Linked DNA regions of Homo sapiens. The protein of the gene in region 1 purifies or fractionates together with the protein of each later gene. This does not show direct contact. Each region holds a gene or a part of one and is shown in the gene's direction. Other genes may lie near its edges. The genes, in order: ALDH6A1, NT5E, HACL1, TKFC, OAS1, MST1R and TMEM67.

Region 1 (3,500 bases):
AGTCCTTGTGGGAGAAGCCAAGAAGTGGCTGCCAGAGCTGGTGGAGCATGCCAAAAACCTGAGAGTCAATGCAGGTAATCAATCACCTGACTTGCCCCCTTAGATTTTGCATCTGTGGCATTAAGCTCTTGGGTTCTGTCACTGGCCTTGGCCAGTGGGAACAATCATGTCTATTCTTGCCATTTCCTCTCTTTATACTGTACTTGTCATTTGGAGTCATCTTGTTAGCAGTCTTTTTTTTTAAAGCACAGGCTGTCTGTTACCCAAGCTGGAGTGCAGTGGCACCATCCTAGCTCATGGCAGCCTCAAACTGTTGGGCTCAAGTGATCCTCCTGCCTCAGCCTCCTGAGCAGCTTGGACCACAGGTGCGGGCCACCACCTGGCTAATTTTTTTATTTTTTGTAAATATGAAGTCTCACTTTGTTGCCCAGGCTGGTCTGGAACTCCTGGGCTCAAGCAGTCCTCCTGCCTTGGCCTCCTAAAGCTTTGGGATTACAGGCATGAGCCCTGGCAGCAGTCATAATTTATGTTAATGAGGACCTTAAATTCTTCTGTGTTGTTTTACAGGAGATCAGCCTGGAGCTGATCTTGGCCCTCTGATCACTCCCCAGGCCAAAGAGCGAGTCTGTAATCTGATTGATAGTGGAACAAAGGAGGGAGCTTCCATCCTTCTTGATGGACGAAAAATTAAAGTGAAAGGCTATGAAAATGGCAACTTTGTTGGACCAACCATCATCTCGAATGTCAAGGTGAACAACTTTCACTTCACAAATATGAGAGCTGAAGGCACCTTAAAGGCTATAGAATCTCATCCCTCTAATTTATTAATGAAAATACTTAATGACTAAGACCTTATCTCTTGCCAGGATTGATCAATTATTTTATCTGGAGTCTGAATGAGCCTCTCCTTCTAACTCCCAACCAAACTCTTTCCACTATACCAGCAGTCTGCAGACTTTCCATAAAGGGATAGATATTTCCAGCTTTGCAGGGATATAGTGTCTGTTGCAACTAAACTCTGACATTGTAGTGTGAGATCAGCTATAAACATTGTGTGGCTGTGTTCCAAAAAAAATGTTATTTATGGACACTGATATTTGAATTTCATATCATTTTATATATGATTAATTTTTTTTCAACCATTTAAAAATGCAAAAACCATTTTTAACTTGGGGCTGTACAAAAACAGGCAGGAAGCCACATTTGGCCCACAGGCTATAGTTTGCCAAACGCTATCTTATCTTATACTGGTTTGTTAATGTTTTCTCTCCCCTCTCCCTCTTGCTGCCTAGCTTATGGCTACTGCAGTGTCTCAATCAATATATCAACCACCCAATATTTATTGAAAGTGACAAAAATAATTGACTTGTCAATTTTTATTTATCAAAACTTTGAAAGTCTCTCAGCTAACATGACTTAAAAATTGAGGTTATGAGGCATTTTTTGAAATTCATATATCCTTACTATAATAGTGAATCATCAAGTGTTGAATGTAAGTGCAGTAGAAATTATGAAATCTCTTGCCACAGAACCATACAGAAAAATCCGTTTATCAGCAACAAACATTAATTGCATGGTGAAGGATGTTTTGAGTGTCTGCGACCTGATATCAAAATATAAACATACAGACATATTTGGGAGGCAAAGGAGTGAATAAGAATGGATTATTTATGTTACAGAAAACAGCATGGGGTTTCTGTAAAGAGAAAAATTATCCTGGTATATTTACTATAGATTGGATTTATAAAAAATAAATTTTCATGTAACTTTTTGATAACAATTGGATGAAACTAGTCGTTCAGGTATTAAAAAGGCAGCTGATGATGGGTCATGAACTAAAGATACAGTCCCTTAAAGGAAGTGTGGTTATTGTTGATAGGAATTCCAAGTTGTTTATATGATTGGTAACTTGGAAGACGGAATACACTTGAGAGAGGACTTTTTTTTTAAATAGGTGATTTGAAATGAAAAGAGATTAGTAATATGAAAGTTGTCCACGTAAATGATGTGTAGTAAGTGAAAGTACCAAATAAGCATAAAATACTCAGAATCCAAAAAGCTGACTTCTTTTCTGGATGCATCACTCCTGGCAGCCAAATATGACCTGTTACAAAGAGGAGATTTTTGGTCCAGTTCTTGTGGTTCTGGAGACAGAAACATTGGATGAAGCCATCCAGATTGTAAATAACAACCCATATGGAAATGGAACTGCCATCTTCACCACCAATGGAGCCACTGCTCGGAAATATGCCCACTTGGTGGATGTTGGACAGGTTCGTGAACAGAATTTTTAAGAGATTCTTATATCCATTTACTATTTCCTAAGAGGAAACAGTAAATAATGGTGAGTCATTGGTTTAAGATTGCCCCCATGACCTCCCACATTGCCCCATTTCTTCCTCAGGAATGAAAGTTCATGGGGTAGAGGATAGGGTAGAAGGTGGGTATTTAAAACTGGTCTCTGATGCCTTTGTGTTTCTAAATGGAGAGTTCCTTTGTCCTTAGGATATGACACGGATTTGTTCTGTTTTAGGTGGGAGTGAATGTCCCCATTCCAGTGCCTTTGCCAATGTTCTCATTCACCGGCTCTCGATCCTCCTTCAGGGGAGACACCAATTTCTATGGCAAACAGGTAACTTTTGAGTTAAATTTTTTGTCTTTTCCTTTAAGAAATTTTCTTAAAGATATTCAGGAGCAAGGATTCTGCAAGGAAGGGACTGCCAGCAGCATCTGTGAGGTCATAATCAGTGCTTCTCAGAAGGTTCCCTAAAAAAGATTTAAAAGTTAACAAAATTTTGCCAAAGCTGCTTCTTCCTGAATAATTCAAAGCAACAAAGTTTTGAGGAAAGAGCATGGGGAAGTCTAAGCCTTTGTATATGCCATTTCCTGAGTGTGTGACCCTCTTCCCCATCTCTCCCCTTTCATCTGACTAACTCCTAATCATCTGTCATGTCTCACTTTAAAAAATGAGCTCCTCCAGAAAATCTCCTCCAACTACCACCACCCCTCCCTCAGTGCTGGGTAGTGTGACCCCAGTGTGTTCCCATTGCACGTATTTTTTCTGTAATAGTTATTCATTTACAAAAAATGTTGTTGAGCACGTTCTTTGTAGCAGACATTATTATTACTATTATTATTATTATTTTTTTTTTTTTTGAGACACAGTCTCGCTCTGTTGCCCAGGCTGGAGTGCTGTGGCATGGTCTTAGCTCACTGCAACCTCCGCCTCCTGGGTTCAAGCACTTCTCCTGCCTCAGCCTCCCGAATAGCTGGGACTACAGGTGCCTGCCACCATGCCTGGATAATTTTTTGTTTTTTAGTAGAGACAGGGTTTCACCATGTTGGCCAGGCTGGTCTTGAACTCCTGACCTTGTGATCCACCCACCTCAGCCTCCCAAAGCACTGGGATTACAGGTGTGAGCCACTCTGCCCGGTCTGTAGCAGACATTATTTTAGGCACTATGAATACAGCACTGAACAAGAAAAGTAAAGCAGATCTG
Region 2 (3,500 bases), on another chromosome or scaffold:
CTCTTTCACAGGCACAGAAAGACAACACACAGTTTTAATGGTAATAACAAGTCCTATGGCTGAGCAAGACCAGGTATGAAGAACAAGCCCGTCTACTTGTCACCAGGCGGAATGGCCATGGTAGCTCTCTGGGGGCCTTACTGAGCCAAGGTCTCCTATGTCGGACTACTACTTCCATGGGCTCACAGCCTGCACCCAGGGAAGTCATTTCTGTCAGTGCTTGGCATGCATTGCCCAGTGCCCAGGATACAACTGCACTCGATAAATGTTTGCCGTGTAAATGACAACAATCATGCTCATGCCAAGACCAGACTCATGATGTCTCCTCAGCATCATGCAGTCAATGCCAGAGAAGTAGTTAAGGAGAAGCTGGTATATAAATGTTAAGAGAAGTCTGGAGGGAAACAACCCAGGCTGTTGGCAGTGCTTATCCACTCTGTTAAAGAGGCTAGGACAAAGGAGAGCTTTTGCTTTTTATTTATTTATTTATTTAATTAATTAATTTATTTATTTATTGAGACTGAGTCTTGCTCTGTCGCCCAGGCTGGAGTGCAGTGGCATGATCTCAGCTCACTGCAACCTCCGTCCCTTGGGTTCAAGCGATTCTCCTGCTTCAGCCTCCCAAGTAGCTGGGATTAGAGGTGTCCACTACCACACCCAGCTAATTTTTGTATCTTTAGTAGAGACGGGGTTTCACCATGTTGGCTAGACTGGTCTCGAACTCCTGACCTTAGGTGATCCACCTGCCACAGCCTCCCAAAGTGCTGGGATTTACAGGTGTGAGCCACTATGCCTGGCCTTTTTTTTTTTTTTTTTTCGGCTTTTTGTCTCCTAAATGAGAATATATTCATTTTATTTCTTATAACTAAACATATATTTTGTAAAATAAAAGTAAGAATGGATGTGATTCTCCCCAGCTTCAAAAGGCTGTCTCTGTCTTTCCAAAATTGCCAACTTGGGAATCAGCTGCAGACATAGACGTGGAGGCCAGGTTCTCTTTGGCATGAGGTCTGGTGTTGAGCAGGCTCTAGGGCCAAGCCCTCAGAATCAGGCAGAGGGCATGGCCTGCCCTGGAGAAGCCTGTGCAGGAGTGACTCTGCAGGCCACCTTGCATGGGAGGCCCAGTCCCGACACCAGGGCTACAACCGAGAGACCATTTTGCTAAGGCCACCTGGCCTGACAGTATGGGAGTTTTAGGAGGGGGAAATAAGAGTTTGACATGGACTGGTAACAGTATATTTTTACTTCTGGGAGCATAAAATTAGTTCTAATTATAGTTGAGAGATCCCTGGGAACACAGCAGCAGGTGAAAAGCAGCTTTATTTCCTCACTAGAGCTAACCAGATTCCTGGAGCTGATCCTAAGGAAGAAGAGCCAGAGTAACTAGTGTAAATCTGTGCTACTGTTGCAGATTAACAACAACCTGAGACACACGGATGAAATGTTCTGGAACCACGTATCCATGTGCATTTTAAATGGAGGTGGTATCCGGTCGCCCATTGATGAACGCAACAATGGTATGCTCCCAGGCCCAGCTCCTCAGTGTGTCATGTTCTCTCTCTGATCTCCTTTTCTGTTATGGTTCTTGCCCTGAACACACCCATGTGCAGCCTCAGTTCATCTCTGCTGCCAGCCATGTACCAGAATGTCAGTCCTTTAAATTAGGGTTAGCCATTATTAAAGTCTAAAACCTAGCCTGAAGGACACACACAAGCTTGTGTGTTCTTATATGTATTCACACACAGAAGCTGCAGGTAAGGTTAGTGGAACTCAAACTTGGTCTGAATTTCTGACTTACAAAGCTATACTAGTTGTTTCTGATTTATGCAAAATAACAACAGTCACCACCTTGGCATCTGAAAAGAGACAAAATCACCAATCTTCTGTCCTGAAAAAGACATACCACTGGATTAAAATGTTACCTTAGTATATTTACAGATATCCAAGATTATATCATATGGCAAAACAAATCAACTACACAAATACTCAAGACACTCTTGTAGCCCTCCCTGATTTACTGTGAAAACCAATCAGTATCAGTATAAGGCCCCAAACGCATCCCATTGTCAGACAACAGGGACAGGTTGCAGGGGCACATTGTTTGTCTGGAGGAACGGAACAATGCAAAACAAACTACTGGAGATCCAGCCCCAAGCTAGCAGATCTAAGACTGAGCATGGTGAACTTCTGAGGCACAGCCATTTGTGAGCTCCCGCCATCTTGCCCAGTGGTGGAGTGCAGGGCCAGAGGCCTCCTAAACTCATTCCCTTCCTCAGTGTCAGGAACCACTTAGACATAGCTAATGATGCTCTATAAGCTTCCCATGTCCCCCTCATTTCTTCCCCCAGCGCTGAGGGAAACTGGTCATGGTGTAAGCATTTTCTCAAGCTATTTTCCTTCTTGCCTCATCTGTGACTACCCTCAGGCACAATTACCTGGGAGAACCTGGCTGCTGTATTGCCCTTTGGAGGCACATTTGACCTAGTCCAGTTAAAAGGTTCCACCCTGAAGAAGGCCTTTGAGCATAGCGTGCACCGCTACGGCCAGTCCACTGGAGAGTTCCTGCAGGTGGGCGGTAAGTCACCCATCCTGTAGGGCTGGCCCATCCAAAGTGACATGGCATTTCCTGCTGGTTGGCTCAGCTTCCCCTTCACCAAAATTCCTGTGGTCAAACTGGTTTGGATTTTTCCCGACCCAACACCAATACCTTACCCTTTAATGGCTGTGGACTCTCAGAGCCACTAAGATTAGGTTGGGGTCAAAGCCCCAAAGCCCCAAAGCCCTGGCAATAAGCAGTATTTGCCAAGTCTGATTTGGACATCAGATGGGCCCTCTAAGCAGGTCACCTGCTTTGAGGTCTAGTTTCTAATAAAATCTTATTTAAGCATTCAATTATTTTTTTTTTAAATCCTCTCCTCTGTTCTACTCATCGTTGCCTGGAACCATGCCAAGATTTAAAGGAATGCTGTCCAATCTGTATTAACCAGGATGATTCCTGGAAGGAGCAGCCTACTGCACAGACATACCTGAACACCTGGTTCTAGTCCCACTGTGACCTGGGGCAAGTTCTCAACCCCTCTGGGCACAGGGAGAAAACCTTTCCTGTTTATCTCATGGACTGCAGTGAAAGTTGAATGGAAATAAATGCTTCCTAAATTGCCAAGGGCTTCTGAAACACTTTTGTTAATAATTCCACAGTCCAGTGAATTAATCCTTTAAAAGCAATCTTATTTTACCTGGAAATCATAATCTGGCCTCATTTTTTTAACCTTAGGTTGTGGTCCCGCTTGACAGATAGAATTGCTTTCCTGAGTTTTCCTCTGCAGAACACATTGCTGTTGAGACTGAAGGGCTACAGAAGGCAGTGGGGCCCTGTCCTAATGCCTATGGGGCAACCCAAACATCCTCCATTTTCCCAGAAGGGAGTTGAGGGAAAAGCAGTTTTCTGATGCTCTAGCAAAGCACTGCATAGCTCTATGCCTTGTGGAAGTCACCAAATC
Region 3 (3,500 bases), on another chromosome or scaffold:
GGTGGGCAGATCACCTGAGGTCAGGAGTTAGAGACCAGTCTGGCCAGCATGGTAAAACCCCATCTCTACTAAAAATACAAAAAATAGCCAGATGTGGTGGTGCATGCCTATAGTCCCAGCTATTTGGGAGGCTGAAGGCAGGAGAATCGCTTGAACCTGGGAGGTGTAGTTTGCAGTGAGCCAAGATCGCACCACTGCACTCTAGCCTGGGCGACAGAGCAAGACTCCATCGCAAAAAAAAAAAAAAAAAAAAAGTCACTTAACCAAGCCTCAGTCTCCTCTCTTCTAAAGCAGGAATAGTATCCTTTAGGCAGAAATTCCTTGAAAAAAAAAAAGTAGGAATAGTAATAGTTCCTACCTTAGAAAGATGATTATGAAAAACAAATGAGGTAATCCAAGCAGTTTTTTTTTTTCAAGATGGGGTCTTGCTTTGTCACCCAGACTGGAGTGGAATGGCGCAACTGCGGCTCACCGCAGCGTCAACCACCCAAGTTCAACGGATCCTGCCTCCTTAGCCTTCTGAGTAGCTGGGATCACAGGCATGCACCACCATGCCCAGCTAATTTTTTGTATTTTTTTGTAGAGACAGGGCTTTGCCATATTGGCCACACTGGTCTCAAATTTCTAAGCTCAAGCAATCCACCCGCCTTGGCCTCTCTAAGTGCTAGAATTACAGGTGTGAGCCACCATGCTTGGCCCCAGCTAAATTCTGAGGTGATGCTCAGTGAACATGAGTCATTTGGATCATGTGTGTAGTTATGAGAATTCATGGAGAAACTCATGAATTGTAGATCCTCACTATAGAAGGATGGGGGTTTTATTTTTCCAGCTATATTTAAACTGTAGTAAAACCATTCTATTCTTAGCCAGGGCTCTTATTAGGGCTTTTGTGAATCATGTTTTGGGGTTGGCAAAGCTTTGGTAGATAAAACGTTCAAGATTTGGGAAGGTATAGTTGTCCCTCTATATCAGTGGGGGATTGGTTCCAGGACCTTCCTCAAATACCAAAATCCAAGGATGCTCAAGTAAGTCCCTGATATAAAATTGTGCAGTATTTGCAAATAACCTATGCATACCCCCCATATATTTTTAATGATGTCTAGATTACTTTAAAATACTGAATACAATATGAATGCTATATAAATAATTGTTGTGCTGTATTGCTTAGGGAATAATGACAAGAACAAAGTCTGTGCATGTTGAGTACAGATCCAATTTTTTTTCCCAAATATTTTTGACCCGCAATTGGTTAAATCCACGGATGCAGAACTCAGATAATGAGGTCTGACTGTATGTGTCTGTTAGAGTGTCTTTATTGACAACCAAGTGATATACACAAAAAAGATGACTTATGGGGAAGTTAGCCTTTTAGTGGATAATGACTCCTTTTGAGCATGGAGAGCAAATAATTACCACAGTCCTGTTATTTAACAGTATGCAGTTTAGTTTTGTTTTTACCACTTGCCCTTGGAAATTATGTTAGAAAATAAAACCTACATTCTTTTCAGTCAATAACATTTAATCAACCTTTTCTTTTTTGTCTTTGCTATACTGTTTAGCACACTGTTAAATACTCCTTTTCTGTACTGACTACACCATGTAATGTGTTTCTGATTATGTGTGTGGTAGTTTGAGTGCAGATTGTGTGTGCTAGTTACTTGTGTATCTTCCACAGCATCTAGCAAGAGCTGGGTGTCTGTGGGGAGCTCAGTAAATAGAAAGGTACGTTTCAAACACTGTTCCTAGGAACCAACTAGAAGTGGTACTTTAGAGAGTATTAAATAGGGAAGGTGTTCTTCATATACCATCTAGACTTATGAAAACCCAGATTCAGAAAAGCTCAGTGATTTGTCTGAGGTTCATAGCTAATAGCTAAAGGACTATCAACTTTTTTTTTTTTTTTCTGAGATGGAGTCTTGCTCTGTTACCCAGGCTGGAGTGCAGTGGTGTGATCTCTGCTCACTGCAACCTCCGCCTCCCGGGTTCAAGCGATTCTTCTGCCTCAGCCTCCCGAGTAGCTGGGACTACAGGCACATGCCACCATGCACAGCTAATTTTTGTATTTTTAGTAGAGACGGGGTTTCACCATATTGGCCAGGCTTGTCTTGAACTCCTGACCTTGTGATCCGCCCACCTCAGCCTCCCAAAGTGCTGGGATTACAGGCATGAGCCATCATGCCCAGCCAGGACTAACAACTCTTAATCTTGCATTCTTTCTGCCTTTCCATGATGTTTCTGTTAATTATTTGATATTCTTTCTTAGGATAATAAATGCTTGATTTTTAGTCTTCCTCTAATAATACAAAAAGCTTATAGGAAACTATTCATTTTTAAGTTAAAGTTTCAACCCAAAGAAAAGAAATTACTTTAAAATGAAGAATGATTTCCTTCATATTTTACTCTCACTTTAGGTACAACTTGCCAATCATACTGTTGGTAGTGAATAACAATGGAATTTACCAAGGTTTTGATACAGATACTTGGAAAGAAATGTTAAAATTTCAAGATGCTACTGCAGTGTAAGTAACCAAGACCAATGTCTGTTTACTTTCTCTTTCCCGTTTTAATCTCTTTTTAAAAAGTCTTCTATATTGGCAGTAATGTGCCTACATGGTATGAGTATTGTCCGTTTCGATTGTCAGCCCTTCTAAAGAGAAGGAATCCTGTCTTAGTTCCTCTTTGCACAAATATCCATGATTAGGTGCTTCAGTAAATAATCAGGGAGCCACTGAAGACTCAGATAAATGAGTGTGATGTCTGAGCCTTGTTAATGAAAAGGCTTATTGCAAAATGCTCCCTGGACTGGGAGCAATAGTAGGACTACTGATTCCTGTTACACCATTTGGAAATGTGGATGTTTACGTATTATTTGTGTTCCAGAGGTCTACCTTCCTTTCACCACTTAGCTAAATCTTGATCATCTGATGGCAGAGCCAGATTAAGACAGTATTGTAGCTGGCCGTAGAATGTGAGACAGATATGAATTTGTGAGCCAGCCTTGGGGTGGAACAGGGTATGGGTGTGTCTATTTATGCCTCACTAACTTTATTTGTTGTTTTCTTATTATTTGTTGTTTTGCAGTAATCTTTTTTTTTCATGTTTTTCTTCTGGATTCATAATAGTTGATAATGTAGCCTGTGCTGTCTAGTATAGTAGCCACTAGGCATGCTGCAACTGTTGCAAATTAGATTTAAATTACTTCAAATTAAATGAAATTAAAAATTTAGTTCCTCAGTTTAGTCACATTTCAAGTGCTCACAGCAACAGGTAGATAGTGGCTACTGTCTTGGATGGCACAGGTTTAAAACATTTCTATCATCACAGAAAGTTCTACTGGACATTGCTATATAGACAATTATAAATATAGGAAAAACTCAGTGTACTGGCATCTCAGCTTAAGTGTTGAAGATAAAAGTATGCCTTTGAGTTCAGCTGAAATTTTTTTAATGAAGTATTTCAGAGAATGACTTTTTTTCTACAAGGTTTAAGATTTAAATTTC
Region 4 (3,500 bases), on another chromosome or scaffold:
GCCTTGGTTCAGGGGTCATCTACTCATGCCTGATGGCTGCAGCCACCTCCTCACTGGGCTCCCCTGCCTGCTTCCTGCCTTCTGGCCTTGCTCATCCATTCTCCACACTACTGCCAGAGGTGTCTTTTTAAAATGTGTATCTGACTAGGTTATTCATCCACTGAAAGCCTTCTTGGGTGCCTACAATCAATACAAGCCCTCACCATAGCTCCCTGACTCCCCACCTTCATCTCCCATCATCCCTGCCTTCCTCTTTTTTTTATTTTCTTTTATTTATTTTTTATTTATTTATTTATTTTTTGAGGCAGAGTCTCACTCTGTTGCCCAGGCTGGAATGCAGTGGCGCGATCTTGGCTCACTGCAGTCTCCGCTGCCCAGGTTTAAGTGATTCTCCTTCCTCAGCCTCCCGAGTAGCTGGGATTACAAGGCGCCTGCCACCACGCCCGGCTAATTTTTGTATTTTTAGTAGAGATGTGGTTTCACCATGTTGGCCAGGCTGGCCTCGAACTCCTGACCTCAAGTGATCTGCCCGCCTCGGCCTCCCAAAGTGCTGGGATGACGAGCGTGAGCCACCGCGCCCAGCCATCCCTGCCTTCCTCTTTTTTTTTTTTTTTTTTTTTTTTTTTTTTTTTTTTTTTGAGACGGAGTCTCGCTCTGTCGCCCAGGCCGGACTGCGGACTGCAGTGGCGCAATCTCGGCTCACTGCAAGCTCCGCTTCCCGGGTTCACGCCATTCTCCTGCCTCAGCCTCCCGAGTAGCTGGGACTACAGGCGCCCGCCACCGCGCCCGGCTAATTTTTTGTATTTTTAGTAGAGACGGGGTTTCACCTTGTTAGCCAGGATGGTCTCGATCTCCTGACCTCATGATCCACCCGCCTCGGCCTCCCAAAGTGCTGGGATTACAGGCGTGAGCCACCGCGCCCGGCCCCTGCCTTCCTCTTATGGTCTCTTCACGCCAGCTCCTGTACCTGCCAGGCTATGGATCATCTCTGGCTTTGCTTATGCAGTATCTGTGGCCTGGAAAATTCTTTCCTTGTCCAGCCTCCTTTTGGCCTGGCTAACTCCTACCATTCTACAGAGGCCCAGCTCTGATGTCTCCCCACCTGGAAGGCTCTCCCTGATCTCCATCTCCCCACTACCCTGAGCTGGTTGGCAGCCAGTCCTAGTGTGGACTCCATCACTGTAATTACCACCTCACATAAATTTTCAATTTATGGGTATCTGCTTCCCTAGCCTCTCCCCAGGCTGTGAGTTCTTGAAGGTGGAGACTGTGACTTAGTCGCCTTTTTTCCTTTTCAGCATATACTAGATGCTTGGTAAAAATTGGGTGGATGGATGGATGGATAGATGGGTAAAGTGACCCAAAATAGCAAGGCTATGGGAGAGAGAACTCTGGAACTCTAGAGTTGGGAAACTGGCCACCCACTGGCTGTGTGACATTGGACAAGTCACCGCCCCTCTCTGGGTCCATTTCCCCATTTGTAAAGTCTCTTCTGACTCCAACAGACTGGAATTCTTGAAGATTCCTGGCAGGTACACTGTGAATGAGGGGAGTTTGCTCTTCTGCCCTAAATGTGATGGGCCAGGTTGAGTGTGAAAATCCTGAGGTTCCCCCTTCCCAACAAGAAATTCATCCCCTGCCTGTCTTCTACCCCACATGGTACAGTGATACCCTCCCCCCTGGGGCTTTTACCTCTTTGTGGCTGCAGGTGGCAGGTGCTCTGGCTGAGGCTGGTGTGGGGCTGGAGGAGATCGCAAAGCAGGTGAACGTGGTCGCCAAGGCCATGGGTGAGTGCTGGCCTGGGAGCTGGGGAAGAGAGTGGGGAAGGTTGGACAGCCCTGGGGCGAGGAGCAGGTTCCTGTTGGCTGCCTAGCGGTGCTCCCCAGGTTATTCCCCAGGGGTCTAGGGAGTGTATCCCTGGGGGAGCTCCTGGGGACTGGTGGCCTTGGGTACCATGGCTGAGGTGGAGAGTCTGGCAGCCTTTCTCAGAGAAGAGGGTACCTGTGGGCAGGGCCTCTGAGATGCTGCTGCCACCCTTCCTGATGCCCAGTGCTAAGAGTGGAACAGTCATCCCTTCATGCCTTGTTTCTCATAGGTACCCTGGGGGTGAGCTTATCCTCCTGCAGCGTCCCTGGTTCCAAACCCACCTTCGAGCTCTCAGCCGACGAGGTGGAGCTGGGCCTGGGTAAGCTTGTGGCCATCCATCCCAGCCCTGCCTGCTCCTTGGCCCTGGACTTTGCCCACCTTGCATACCCTTAGAGCCATCAACCTGGTCCTCTCCCCAGGTGGTCTTAGTATTTTTACCTGGTCATTTGAGGCCCAGCCTGGGCCAACCTGCCTGATTTCTACCTGCTTTGCTGTCTATACCCACAGCTTTGGCCATGTGGAGCTCTGTGCACTGCCCACCTCCTAGCCTTTGCCTGCCATTCCCAGGTCCTCCTGTCCCTGCCAGAATACACCCTTCTTTCAACGGCTGTTCAAAGATCACCTGGCTGCAAAGCTTTCTTTCCTCGCCTGTGCTTCCTCCTTAACTATCTCTAGTTAAAGCTATCTCCACCACCAGGCCACAAGCTCCCAGAGAACAGAGATCGTGTTTTTCATTATTCTGTCCATTTCCATCCCCCACTCCCGCCCACTTACTGTGTGAGTCCAGCACTGTGTGAGTCCTTGATAAAAACGATGAGCAAATCCCCAGGCCTTGAGTGGGTCAGCAGTGACCACATCTATCCGCAGGGATCCACGGGGAAGCTGGTGTGCGCCGGATAAAGGTAGGTGGTCCCTCTGGCACAGGCCGCCCTAAGGCCAAGGCCCCCCAGATGCAGCTCATTCCTGGCTCCCTCTGACAGATGGCAACCGCCGATGAGATTGTGAAACTCATGCTCGACCACATGACAAACACCACCAACGCGTCCCATGTGCCTGTGCAGCCCGGTGGGTAGCCTCTCGCCCGCGTCTCCCAACCCCTCCTAAACCTCTGGGGAGGAGACGCCCAGAGGGTCTCACCTGGGGTGTCATGTCTACCCGCAGGCTCCTCAGTTGTGATGATGGTCAACAACCTGGGTGGCCTGTCATTCCTGGAACTGGGCATCATAGCCGACGCTACCGTCCGCTCCCTGGGTGAGCCATGCACTGGGAAGGGGATCCTACAGCCCTTTGGAAAGGGCTGAGGGAGGGTCTTGTGATGGCAGAGAACACGGACTGTGCGTCAGATAAGCCTGAGTTAAATCGTCTCTCTGCCACCTAATTGCCGGATACCTTGAGCCTCTGTTTGTTTTCTTGTCTGCAAATTGGGGGTAATAATAATGGTACCTGCTTTATACCGTTGTTTTGAGGATTAAGTGAGATTAAACATATGTAAGACACTCAACACAGCGCCCAGCACCTGGCACGAACTGAGTAAATGAGACCTGTAATTACTCATCTTCCCCGACGTAGGGGACACCTCCAGGGAACGTGGTCATTTGTGGGGTTATTGAGGGATGCCTGCCAGGAGGAAATCA
Region 5 (3,442 bases), on another chromosome or scaffold:
GGTTCTGAGAGGTAAGGAGCTTGTCCAACCCTTAACAGAAAATGAGTAAAATAGCTGCAGTTTGAACTGAAATAAGAACAGCAGCAACAACAATGATAGTAATTGCTCCCAGGTATTGAAAGCTTGTTGTAAGACTAACACATGCTAATATAATAGTAAAAATTATTAGCAATATTACTGATATGTATGTTATGTTCTAGTCGCTGTGCTGAGCATTTCATATAACTGGGCTTTTTCTATCCTCACAGCATAGCCTTTGAGATAGGTATGTGGAACTATTCCCATTTTACAGATAAGAATCCTGAGGCTTAGAGAGTTCAAGTGACCTACCCAAGGGCACATCACTGATAAAGGGCAGAGGTGGGATTCAAACCCACATCTGTCAGGTGCAAGTGCAAGGCTCCTTCTCCTCATGCTCACTGCCTGCTGGGGAATAGGGCACTGGGGACATACCCCAGGGAGCCCTTCCTCATGTTCTGAGTCCCAGTTCATCCCATGCTGCTATTTTGCTCTCCCAGGAGCATCTGGACTCCCTAGACAGAGCCCCAGCTTCTCACCTGTCCCTCTCTAAATGCTGCTCTGCAGGCCTGTGATCCTGGACCCGGCGGACCCTACAGGAAACTTGGGTGGTGGAGACCCAAAGGGTTGGAGGCAGCTGGCACAAGAGGCTGAGGCCTGGCTGAATTACCCATGCTTTAAGAATTGGGATGGGTCCCCAGTGAGCTCCTGGATTCTGCTGGTGAGACCTCCTGCTTCCTCCCTGCCATTCATCCCTGCCCCTCTCCATGAAGCTTGAGACATATAGCTGGAGACCATTCTTTCCAAAGAACTTACCTCTTGCCAAAGGCCATTTATATTCATATAGTGACAGGCTGTGCTCCATATTTTACAGTCATTTTGGTCACAATCGAGGGTTTCTGGAATTTTCACATCCCTTGTCCAGAATTCATTCCCCTAAGAGTAATAATAAATAATCTCTAACACCATTTATTGACTGTCTGCTTCGGGCTCAGGTTCTGTCCTAAGCCCTTTAATATGCACTCTCTCATTAAATAGTCACAACAATCCCATGAGGCATTTTTAAAAATTTTTTATTATTTTAGATTCAGAGGGCACATGTGCCATTTGTTACACAGCTATATTGTGTAATGGTGGGGTTTGGGCCTCTATTGATCCTGTCGCCCAAATAGTGAACAGAGTACCCAAAAAGAATTTTTTCAACCTTTGCCTTTCTCCCTTCCTCCTCCCTGTTGGAGTCCCTAGTGTCTATTGTTCCCATCTTTAGCAGATGTTAAGTATTTGATTTTCTGTTTCTGGGTTAATTCACTTCGGATAATGGCCTCCAGCTGCAACCATGATTTCATTCTTTCTTATGGCTGCATAATACTCCATGGTGTAGATATACCACACTTTCTTTATCCAGTTCACACTGATGGGCACTTAAGTTGATTCCATGACTTTGCTATTGTGAATCGTACTGCGATAAACATACGAGTGCCGGTGTCTTTTGATAGAATGATTTCTTTACCTTTGGGTAGATACCGAGTAGTGGGATTGCTGGGTTGAATGGACATTCTACTTTTAGTTATTTGAAAAGTCCCATGAGGCATGTTTTCTATCATTCCCATCTTACAGATGAGACAAAGGCTCAGAGAGGTGAGGTCACTTGCTCAAGGACATCAGCTAACAAGTGGTGGAAATGGAATTCAAGCTCAGTGGACTCTAAAGCCAGTGCTCATGTCACTGTGCTAAACAGCCTGCCTTGTCACATCCCCACCTCTCATCTGACCAATGGGAGACTCTGAGCAGCTGAGTGACTTGGGTTGTCACACAGCTAAACAGGGGCAAAGGACCCAGTCTTGGATCTTTCCACCTCCAAGCAGGAATCTGTCTGATTCCAGGGGATTGATGATGTTGCAGATGGCTAGGAAGCAGACTCCAGGATGGAATTTAGTATGCAGGATGTTCTGGGGGAGAGCCACTGGAACCAGCACTCAGGGAAAGGGGGGAAGAAAGGATAGGAAGGAAGCATGAAAGAGAATAGGGAGAAGTGAACAGGGATGCAGAGCGAATGCCAGTTTCAGCCAACTCCAAGGACAGCCCTGGAGCTGGAATGGCCTTTAGAGCTGCCCCATGGTGACAGAGGTGGCCAGGCTTCTATACCCCTACGTGGATCACTCACTGTGCTTGGGCACCTTGGGAAAGGGCATGGCTTTGAGCAAAAGGCTCTCTGCAGCTGAGGCAACCCCTAAAAGGGCTGACGGCTGAAGTCTGTCTGCTGACCACTGTCCCAGCAGCTGGGGCTTGTTAGTCCTTCCTCAAAGGGGGATCCAGATGGCATGTCACAGTGTCTACCGTAAATGCTCACTGAATCCAGCTGCAATGCAGGAAGACTCCCTGATGTGATCATGTGTCTCACCCTTTCAGGCTGAAAGCAACAGTGCAGACGATGAGACCGACGATCCCAGGAGGTATCAGAAATATGGTTACATTGGAACACATGAGTACCCTCATTTCTCTCATAGACCCAGCACACTCCAGGCAGCATCCACCCCACAGGCAGAAGAGGACTGGACCTGCACCATCCTCTGAATGCCAGTGCATCTTGGGGGAAAGGGCTCCAGTGTTATCTGGACCAGTTCCTTCATTTTCAGGTGGGACTCTTGATCCAGAGAGGACAAAGCTCCTCAGTGAGCTGGTGTATAATCCAGGACAGAACCCAGGTCTCCTGACTCCTGGCCTTCTATGCCCTCTATCCTATCATAGATAACATTCTCCACAGCCTCACTTCATTCCACCTATTCTCTGAAAATATTCCCTGAGAGAGAACAGAGAGATTTAGATAAGAGAATGAAATTCCAGCCTTGACTTTCTTCTGTGCACCTGATGGGAGGGTAATGTCTAATGTATTATCAATAACAATAAAAATAAAGCAAATACCATTTATTGGGTGTTTATTAACTTCAAGGCACAGAGCCAAGAAGTACAGATGCATATCTAGGGGTATTGTGTGTGTATATACATTGATTCAACAAGAAATATTTATTGAGCACTTACTATGTGCCAAGCATAGCTCTGGGCACTGGGAATATAGCAATGCACAAAAGCAGACAGAAATCCCTGTCCTCATGACCCTGCAGAGCCAAGACTTCCAGAATTTTTTAAATAAAAAAATCCCTGTCCTCATGGAGTTGACATTTGTGCAAAACATCTTAATGTTAGATGGTTTTCCTATTACTAATAATTCTGAAATAAGCATCCTTGATTTATCCTTTCTCCATATCTCTGAGAAAAATTATAGAACCTCCCTGTGTGACACAGCAGCCACTAGCCACATGTATCAAATGCTTAAAATGTAGCTAGTCTAAATCTACATGTGCTGTGAGTGCAAGGTATATACTTGGTTTCAAAGACTTAGTACAAATGAAAAGAATGCCAAGTT
Region 6 (3,500 bases), on another chromosome or scaffold:
AGGCTGGAGTGCAGTGGCGCGATCTCGACTCACTGCAAGCTCCGCCTCCCAGGTTCATGCCATTCTCCTGCCTCAGCCTCCCAAGTAGCTGGGACTACAGGCGCCTGCCACCGTGCCCGGCTAATTTTTTGTATTTTTAGTAGAGATGGGGTTTCACCGTGTTAGCCAGGATGGTCTCGATCTCCTGACCTCATGATCCACCCGCCTCAGCCTCCCAAAGTGCTGGGATTACAGGTGTGAGCCACCGCGCCCGGCCTATTTTATTTTTTCAAGATGGAGTCTTGCTCTATCACCCAGGCTGGAGTGCAGTGGTGCAATCTTGGCTCACTGCAACCTCCCCCTCCCAGGTTCAAGCAATTCTCCTGCCTCACCCTCCCTAGTAGCTGGGATTACAGGCGCCCGCCACCACACCTGGCTAATTTTTGTATTTTTAGTAGAGATGGGGTTTCACCATGTTGGCCAGGCTGGTCTCAAACTCCTAACCTCAGGTGATCTGCCTGCCTTGATCTCCCAAAGTGCTGGGATTACAGGCGTGAGCCACTGTATCCAGCCTATTTATTTATTTATTTATTTATTTATTTATTTATTTATTTTTGAGACAGAACCTCACTCTGTCACCCAGGCTGGAGTGCAGTGGCATGATCTCAGCTCACTGCAACCTCTGCCTCCCGGATTCAAGTGATTCTCCTGCCTCAGCCTCCTAAGTAGCTGGGATTACAGACGTGCACCACCAAGCCCGTCTAATTTTTGTATTTTTAGTAGAAATGGAGTTTCATCATGTTGGCCAGGCTGGTCTCAAACTCCCGACCTCAGGTGATCCGCCCGCCTCGGCCTCCCGAAGTGCTGGGATTACAGGCGTGAGCCATCGCACCCGACCCTGCTTTATTTACTTATTTATTTATTTTTATTTTTTTGAGACAGAGTCTCACTCTATTGCCCAGGCTGGAGTGCAGTAGTGCAATCTCGGCTCACTGCAACCTCTGCCTCCTGGATTCAAGCATTTCTCCTGCCTCAGCCTCCTGAGTAGCTGGGATTACAGGGGCCTGCCACTGCCACCACACCTGTCTAATTTTTGTAGTTTTAGTAGAGACGGGGTTTCATCATGTTGGCCAGACTGGTCTTGAACCCCTGACCTCAGCTGATCCTCCCGCCCCAGCATCCCAAAGTATTAGGATTAAAGGCATGAGCCTTTTTTTTTTTTTTTTAATTTAAAAAAAAGACAGCATCTCACTATGTTACCCAGGCTGGCCTTGAACTCCTGGGCTTATGCGATTCTCTTGCCTCAGCCTCCTGAGTAACTGGGATTACAGGCGCACTGCGCTTGGCTTCTGCTGCTTTTCTTTGAGGGGGATGGAGTCTCGCCCTGTCTCTCAGGCTGGAGTGCAGTGACACGATCTTGGCTCACTGCAACCTCTGCCTCCCGGGTTCAAGCTATCCTCCTGCCTCAGGCTCCCAAGCAGCTGGGACTAGAGATGGGGTTTCACCATATTAGCCAGGCTGGTCTCAAACTCCTGACCTCGTGATCCACCCGCCTTGGCCTCTCAAAGTGCTGGCATTACAGGTGTGAGCCACTGCACGCAGCCCTGCTGCTTTTTTAAAATGTCAGATTGGGCCGGGTGTGGTGGCTCACACCTGTAATCCCAGCACTTTGGGAGGCCTAGGTGGGTGAATCACAAGATCAGGAGTTTGAGACCAGCCTGGCCAACATGGTGAAACCCAGTCTCTACTAAAAATACAAAAAAATTAGCTGTGTGTAGTGGCAGTTGCCTGTAATCCCAGCTACTCAGGAGGCTGAGGCAGGAGAATCACTTGAACCTGGGAGGCAGAGGTTGCAATGAGTTGAGATTGCACCACTGCACTTCAGCCTGGGCAAGAGTGAGACTCGGTCTCAAAAAAAATAAATAAAAATTAAAAATAAATAAAATGTCAGATTGGCCAGTTTAGTGCTCTGAGGTCTGGTTGCCAATGAGAATGTGTGGTGTGAGCCTTGGGCCCTGGATCCCCTCTCATCGACTCATTATGCACCTCACACCAGGCCACTTTGGAGTTGTCTACCACGGAGAATACATAGACCAGGCCCAGAATCGAATCCAATGTGCCATCAAGTCACTAAGTCGTAAGTGGGGCAGAAGATGGGAAGGCAGAGGGAGGGGCCTCAGGCTGGGAGGATTCTTTTTCTCTGTGTTCCCACCTTACTGAGTGACCCTGAGCAGGAGACCTTCATTTCCCATTTCCCCATCTGAGCCTTATAAAGGGACGCCCTGCCCTGTGCCTGACTTGCGCTGCTCTGCAGGCATCACAGAGATGCAGCAGGTGGAGGCCTTCCTGCGAGAGGGGCTGCTCATGCGTGGCCTGAACCACCCGAATGTGCTGGCTCTCATTGGTATCATGTTGCCACCTGAGGGCCTGCCCCATGTGCTGCTGCCCTATATGTGCCACGGTGACCTGCTCCAGTTCATCCGCTCACCTCAGCGGGTCAGTGTTCATCTGGCTCTGGGTTGGGGGCTGGGCAGCAGCTGGAGAAGGAGCTGCTGTGCCCTTGCCCACCAACCCACCTGTGCCCCCAGAACCCCACCGTGAAGGACCTCATCAGCTTTGGCCTGCAGGTAGCCCGCGGCATGGAGTACCTGGCAGAGCAGAAGTTTGTGCACAGGGACCTGGCTGCGCGGAACTGCATGTGAGAGTCCAGAGTAGCTGGGGTGAAGCAAAAGGACAGGGCATGAGGGTGTGCGGTGCTCAAGGCCGCCTCAGGGAAGGGCCCACTCCAGCCTTGTCCTCCCCTCTCTGCACCTTACTTTTTTTGTCTGCCCAGTGCAGACTTGGACTGGACACTGTGGCTTTGAAATTTGGCCAGGCGCGGTGGCTCACGTCTGTAATCCCAGCACTTTGGGAGGCTGAGGAAGGCGGATCATGAGGTCAGGAGATCGAGACCATCCTGGCTAACACGGTGAAACCCCGTCTCTACTAAAAATACAAAAAGATTAGCCAGGCGTGGTGGCGGGCCCCTGTAGTCCCAGCTACTCAGGAGGCTGAGGCGGGAGAATGGCGTGACCCCAGGAGGCAGAGCTTGCAGTGAGCGGAGATCGCGCCACTGCACTCCAGCCTGGGTGACAGAGCGAGACTCCGTCTCAAAAAAAAAAAAAATTCTGTAAGGGCCTAGAACAGGTGGGTTCAGGGCCTGGTAAGGGCCAGTCCTAAGTGTGATCCTCTCCCTACCCCTAAGGCTGGACGAGTCATTCACAGTCAAGGTGGCTGACTTTGGTTTGGCCCGCGACATCCTGGACAGGGAGTACTATAGTGTTCAACAGCATCGCCACGCTCGCCTACCTGTGAAGTGGATGGCGCTGGAGAGCCTGCAGACCTATAGATTTACCACCAAGTCTGATGTGGTGAGGCCCCACCTGCCCTACAGTCCACATGGCTTTGGCACCCAAGAACACTGGGCCTCACCCATTCAGCTCTGAATGATCTGAGCCCAGGGAGTCCCCAGGGTAGATGAC
Region 7 (3,500 bases), on another chromosome or scaffold:
GTGCAACCTCTGTGGAAAGCAAATTTATGGTGTTTATCAAAATTAAAAATACAGATTATCTTTGCCTGGAAAGCTCTCATCTAGAAATTTCTCATTTGGATACACTTAACTGTATGCCTGAAGAAGTGTTGAATGTTTTTTTCTTGCAACATTATTCCTAAGACAAAAGATTATAAACAAAATAAGATTCTATCAAGATGAGATCAATCAATTAAATTATGATATAGTCATACAATGGTATAGAATGCAATTGTGGAAAAATAAAGAGGCAGTTCTACACATAGTGCTATGGAAAGAAATCTAAGATATATTGAGTAAAAAAGCAAGATTTGGAATAATTTATTCATTCATCTACAAATGTTTATTGAGTACCTGCTATTTATCAGCACTATTTTATGTACTTGGTATTCCACTATTTAGCTTTTTAAAGACCATTATATATGCATATGTGCTTGTATATGCACAGGTTATTTCTGAAAAGACTCATAAGAAACTGTTAACAATGCTGCCTCCTGAGTGAAGAACTGAGTGCCTGGGAATAGTGGGAAAGAGACTTAATTTTCATTTTAAATCTTTTTTTGCTTGGTGCAGTGTTTCACGCCTGTAATCGCAGCACTTTGGGAAGCCGAGGTGGGTGGATCACCTGAGGTTAGAAGTTCAAAACCACCCTGGCCAACATGGTGAAACCCTGTCTCTACTAAAAATAGAAAAATTAGCTGGGCATGGTGGCAGGTGCCTGTAGTCCCAGCTACTTGGGACACTGAGGCAGGAGAATCACTTGAATCTGGGAAGTGGAGGTTACAGTGAGTGAGATCACGCCACTGTGCTCCAGCCTGGATGACAAGAGCGAAACTCTCTCAAAAAATAAAATAAAATAAATCCTTTTGTGCCTTTTATTTTTATATTTCATATATTACCCAAAGATTAATTTTTTAATTATCTTTACCTTTTTTTTTTTTTACTTTTTAACAATTTTTTTTTTTGTGGTGATGGGGGTCTTACTATATATCTCAAGCTGGTCTTGAACTCCTGACCTCAAGCAGTCCTCCTGCCTTGACCTCTCAATGTGTTGGGATTACAGGTGTGAGCCACCATGCCTGGTCTTATTTTTTCAGAGACGTGGTCTTGTTATGTTACCCAGGCTGGATTCAAACTCCTGGGCTTAAGCAATCTACTGCACCCAGCTTCTTAGTAGTTTCATTGGCACTGTTGCCTCCATTGAAAATATTAACTTGATTCTCACGGTATTTGGGGGGTGTATTCTTAGGGATGGGACTAATGAAAGTTTTATGAGTTGGATGGCAATATGAAATTTATTACACTTCATGATGTACTAATTTTGGTGTGTGTGTCTCTGTGTGTGCACATTCAGAATTTTTTTTCCCTGTTTTATTATAAGGATCTACACTATATAGCCACAGGAAACATAAGTGGTATGTTTGCATAAATGTTTCATACACAAATATTGTTCTAGCATACTTTTTTCAGTTAACGGTATGCTCTGATGCTCTGTTAGATTTACCTGATTCTTTTTGTTTGTTTGTTTTTTGAAACAGGGTCTCACTCTTGCCCAGGCTGGAGTGTAGTGGTGTGATCTCAGCTCACTGCAACCTCCACCTACCAGGTTCAAGTGATTCTCATGCCTCAGACACTTGAGTAGCTGGGATTACAGGCACGTGCCACCACACCCAGCTAATTTTGTATTTTTTTTTTTTTAGTAGAGACAAGGTTTTGCCATATTGGCCAGGCTGGTCTTGAACTCCTGGCCTCATGTGATCCACCCACCTTAGCCTCCCAAAGGGCTGGGATTACAGGCATAAGCCTCCTCACCTGGCCTTACCTGATTCTTTTTAATATATTCCATAGTATTTTGTAGCATGGATATACCATCATTCTGCTATTTTAAATATTCGTGTTGTTTCTAACAAATAATGCCTCAGTGAATATCCTTATATACATGTTCAAGTGTTTCTGTAAGTTAGGTATCTAAAAACAAAATTGTGGTGTTATAAGGATGTGAATTTGAAACTTTAATAGATACTACTAAAAGCCTTCTAAGTTGCAGAAACTTATCAGTAATCTATGAAAATACTTGCTTCCCCATCCTAGTGTGACAGAAATGTATAGATAAGAGGTAAGAAAATTTTTGAGGAAAAAAATACTGACTTAATTGTTACGATGACTTGGAAAATGATTTTCTATATTTTACTATGTGAGAATAGGGAAGGCATCACTTCTCTTTTTTTTTGGAGGCATGGACGGGTACGAAGGGATCACTTCTCTACACTTTATTATGGAGATACTTGTTATGCCTTTAATGCAAATAAAGTGTTTTGAGAATTAATAGAATAATAGTTACAATTGGGTTTTGTTAAATATTTTCTGAATATGTAGAAGCTTATATGTTTACTATGAGTTACATCTTTATTTTGTTTCTAAACTGTTCAGTGGAAAGAGACATTAATGGAACATTGTTGTCTCAAGCAACTTGTGAGCTCTGTGATGGAAATGAAAACTCTTTTATGGTAGTAAATGCTTTAGGAGACAGGTAAGCAGTGTGATGGGGGCTAACTTCATTAATATCATCTTATATTAGTGTATAATTTGTACTTTTAAGAGTGTTTTCCTATCATATCACTTAGTTTTCACAATAACCCAAGGAAGGATAGAAGTAGACATTAACAGATACAGAAGCTGAGGCCCAGAGCGTGAGACACACTAGGGTTCAAATTTTGGTCCAGTCTGTTAGTTGTCTGACCTTGGATAGCTCACTACTTCACAATCCCTTGTCTTTAGAATGGTAATGTTACCACCCACTTCATAGGCTGTAATGGCTCAGAAATAATAAGTAATAAAGTAAATAGATACAGTTCTTAGTATAGTGCTACATAGTAACCACTCTGTACAGGGTAGCTATTTTTGTTTGTTGTTACATAATTTGTATATAATCTGTAATATAATTATGTGCTAAGTACTGTACTAAAGCCCTTATGTATTATAATGTTACATAGAAAAACATAAATGTATGCTAATAATAGCCCAGGTACCCTGATTTATAGTCCCATTTTCTGTTGCTTCCTGTTCCCCCTTTGTGCATGTATTTGTGAAACACACACACACACACACACACACCCCTGCCTGCCTATATACTTCCCTCTAATTTAAGCACATTATACCAATTTCAGCATCTTTAATTTATTAGAGGCCTACATCATGACTTCCCTCCGGGCACAGTTTTTTCTTTAGTTTCCAAGTTTAATATGGAAAATAGTTGAGCAGCTTTTCTGAGGGCTACTTAGTGTTGGATCATCTTTTCTCTAAGGCTGACCTGAGTTATGGCATCCAAATACCAATTTTTTTTGCCCAATATTTCCCCAAGCCTAGTGTGTTTTATGTCATGCCCCAGCCCGACTCCTACCTGCTCTATTTTGCAAGTGATGAATACCCATATATTCACTCATCACTGTCCTCATTGGACCAGTACCCTCCCTCCCTCTGTC

The links.
Region 2: the proteins of ALDH6A1 (region 1) and NT5E fractionate together in Homo sapiens (co-fractionation; one large-scale study listed by BioGRID). This does not show direct contact.
Region 3: the proteins of ALDH6A1 (region 1) and HACL1 fractionate together in Homo sapiens (co-fractionation; one large-scale study listed by BioGRID). This does not show direct contact.
Region 4: the proteins of ALDH6A1 (region 1) and TKFC fractionate together in Homo sapiens (co-fractionation; one large-scale study listed by BioGRID). This does not show direct contact.
Region 5: the proteins of ALDH6A1 (region 1) and OAS1 purify together in Homo sapiens (co-immunoprecipitation; one large-scale study listed by IntAct). This does not show direct contact.
Region 6: the proteins of ALDH6A1 (region 1) and MST1R fractionate together in Homo sapiens (co-fractionation; one large-scale study listed by BioGRID). This does not show direct contact.
Region 7: the proteins of ALDH6A1 (region 1) and TMEM67 fractionate together in Homo sapiens (co-fractionation; one large-scale study listed by BioGRID). This does not show direct contact.

What each region holds. Positions count from the first base shown.
Region 1 is NC_000014.9:74,063,954-74,067,453, reverse strand, and holds part of ALDH6A1 (methylmalonate-semialdehyde/malonate-semialdehyde dehydrogenase [acylating], mitochondrial isoform 1 precursor), read left to right. Parts: coding exon 1-74; intron 75-567; coding exon 568-749; intron 750-1,361; exon of another isoform or gene 1,362-2,093; coding exon 2,094-2,273; exon of another isoform or gene 2,274-2,533; coding exon 2,534-2,632; exon of another isoform or gene 2,633-2,665; coding exon of another isoform or gene 2,666-2,766; intron 2,767-3,500. UniProt on the Homo sapiens protein: Malonate and methylmalonate semialdehyde dehydrogenase involved in the catabolism of valine, thymine, and compounds catabolized by way of beta-alanine, including uracil and cytidine.
Region 2 is NC_000006.12:85,488,083-85,491,582, forward strand, and holds part of NT5E (5'-nucleotidase isoform 1 preproprotein), read left to right. Parts: intron 1-1,411; coding exon 1,412-1,517; intron 1,518-2,425; coding exon 2,426-2,575; intron 2,576-3,500. UniProt on the Homo sapiens protein: Catalyzes the hydrolysis of nucleotide monophosphates, releasing inorganic phosphate and the corresponding nucleoside, with AMP being the preferred substrate. Shows a preference for ribonucleotide monophosphates over their equivalent deoxyribose forms.
Region 3 is NC_000003.12:15,563,570-15,567,069, reverse strand, and holds part of HACL1 (2-hydroxyacyl-CoA lyase 1), read left to right. Parts: intron 1-2,411; coding exon 2,412-2,519; intron 2,520-3,500. UniProt on the Homo sapiens protein: Peroxisomal 2-OH acyl-CoA lyase involved in the cleavage (C1 removal) reaction in the fatty acid alpha-oxydation in a thiamine pyrophosphate (TPP)-dependent manner.
Region 4 is NC_000011.10:61,339,728-61,343,227, forward strand, and holds part of TKFC (triokinase/FMN cyclase), read left to right. Parts: intron 1-1,708; coding exon 1,709-1,787; intron 1,788-2,095; coding exon 2,096-2,185; intron 2,186-2,733; coding exon 2,734-2,768; intron 2,769-2,846; coding exon 2,847-2,931; intron 2,932-3,027; coding exon 3,028-3,117; intron 3,118-3,500.
Region 5 is NC_000012.12:112,916,962-112,920,403, forward strand, and holds the end of OAS1 (2'-5'-oligoadenylate synthase 1), read left to right. Parts: intron 1-585; coding exon 586-739; coding exon of another isoform or gene 740-796; exon of another isoform or gene 797-1,635; coding exon of another isoform or gene 1,636-1,752; exon of another isoform or gene 1,753-2,427; coding exon 2,428-2,592; coding exon of another isoform or gene 2,593-2,732; 3' UTR 2,733-2,942; downstream 2,943-3,442.
Region 6 is NC_000003.12:49,890,374-49,893,873, reverse strand, and holds part of MST1R (macrophage-stimulating protein receptor isoform 1 preproprotein), read left to right. Parts: intron 1-2,035; coding exon 2,036-2,116; intron 2,117-2,293; coding exon 2,294-2,475; intron 2,476-2,567; coding exon 2,568-2,677; intron 2,678-3,223; coding exon 3,224-3,389; intron 3,390-3,500. UniProt on the Homo sapiens protein: Receptor tyrosine kinase that transduces signals from the extracellular matrix into the cytoplasm by binding to MST1 ligand. Regulates many physiological processes including cell survival, migration and differentiation.
Region 7 is NC_000008.11:93,761,394-93,764,893, forward strand, and holds part of TMEM67 (meckelin isoform 1 precursor), read left to right. Parts: intron 1-2,448; coding exon 2,449-2,548; intron 2,549-3,500. UniProt on the Homo sapiens protein: Required for ciliary structure and function. Part of the tectonic-like complex which is required for tissue-specific ciliogenesis and may regulate ciliary membrane composition.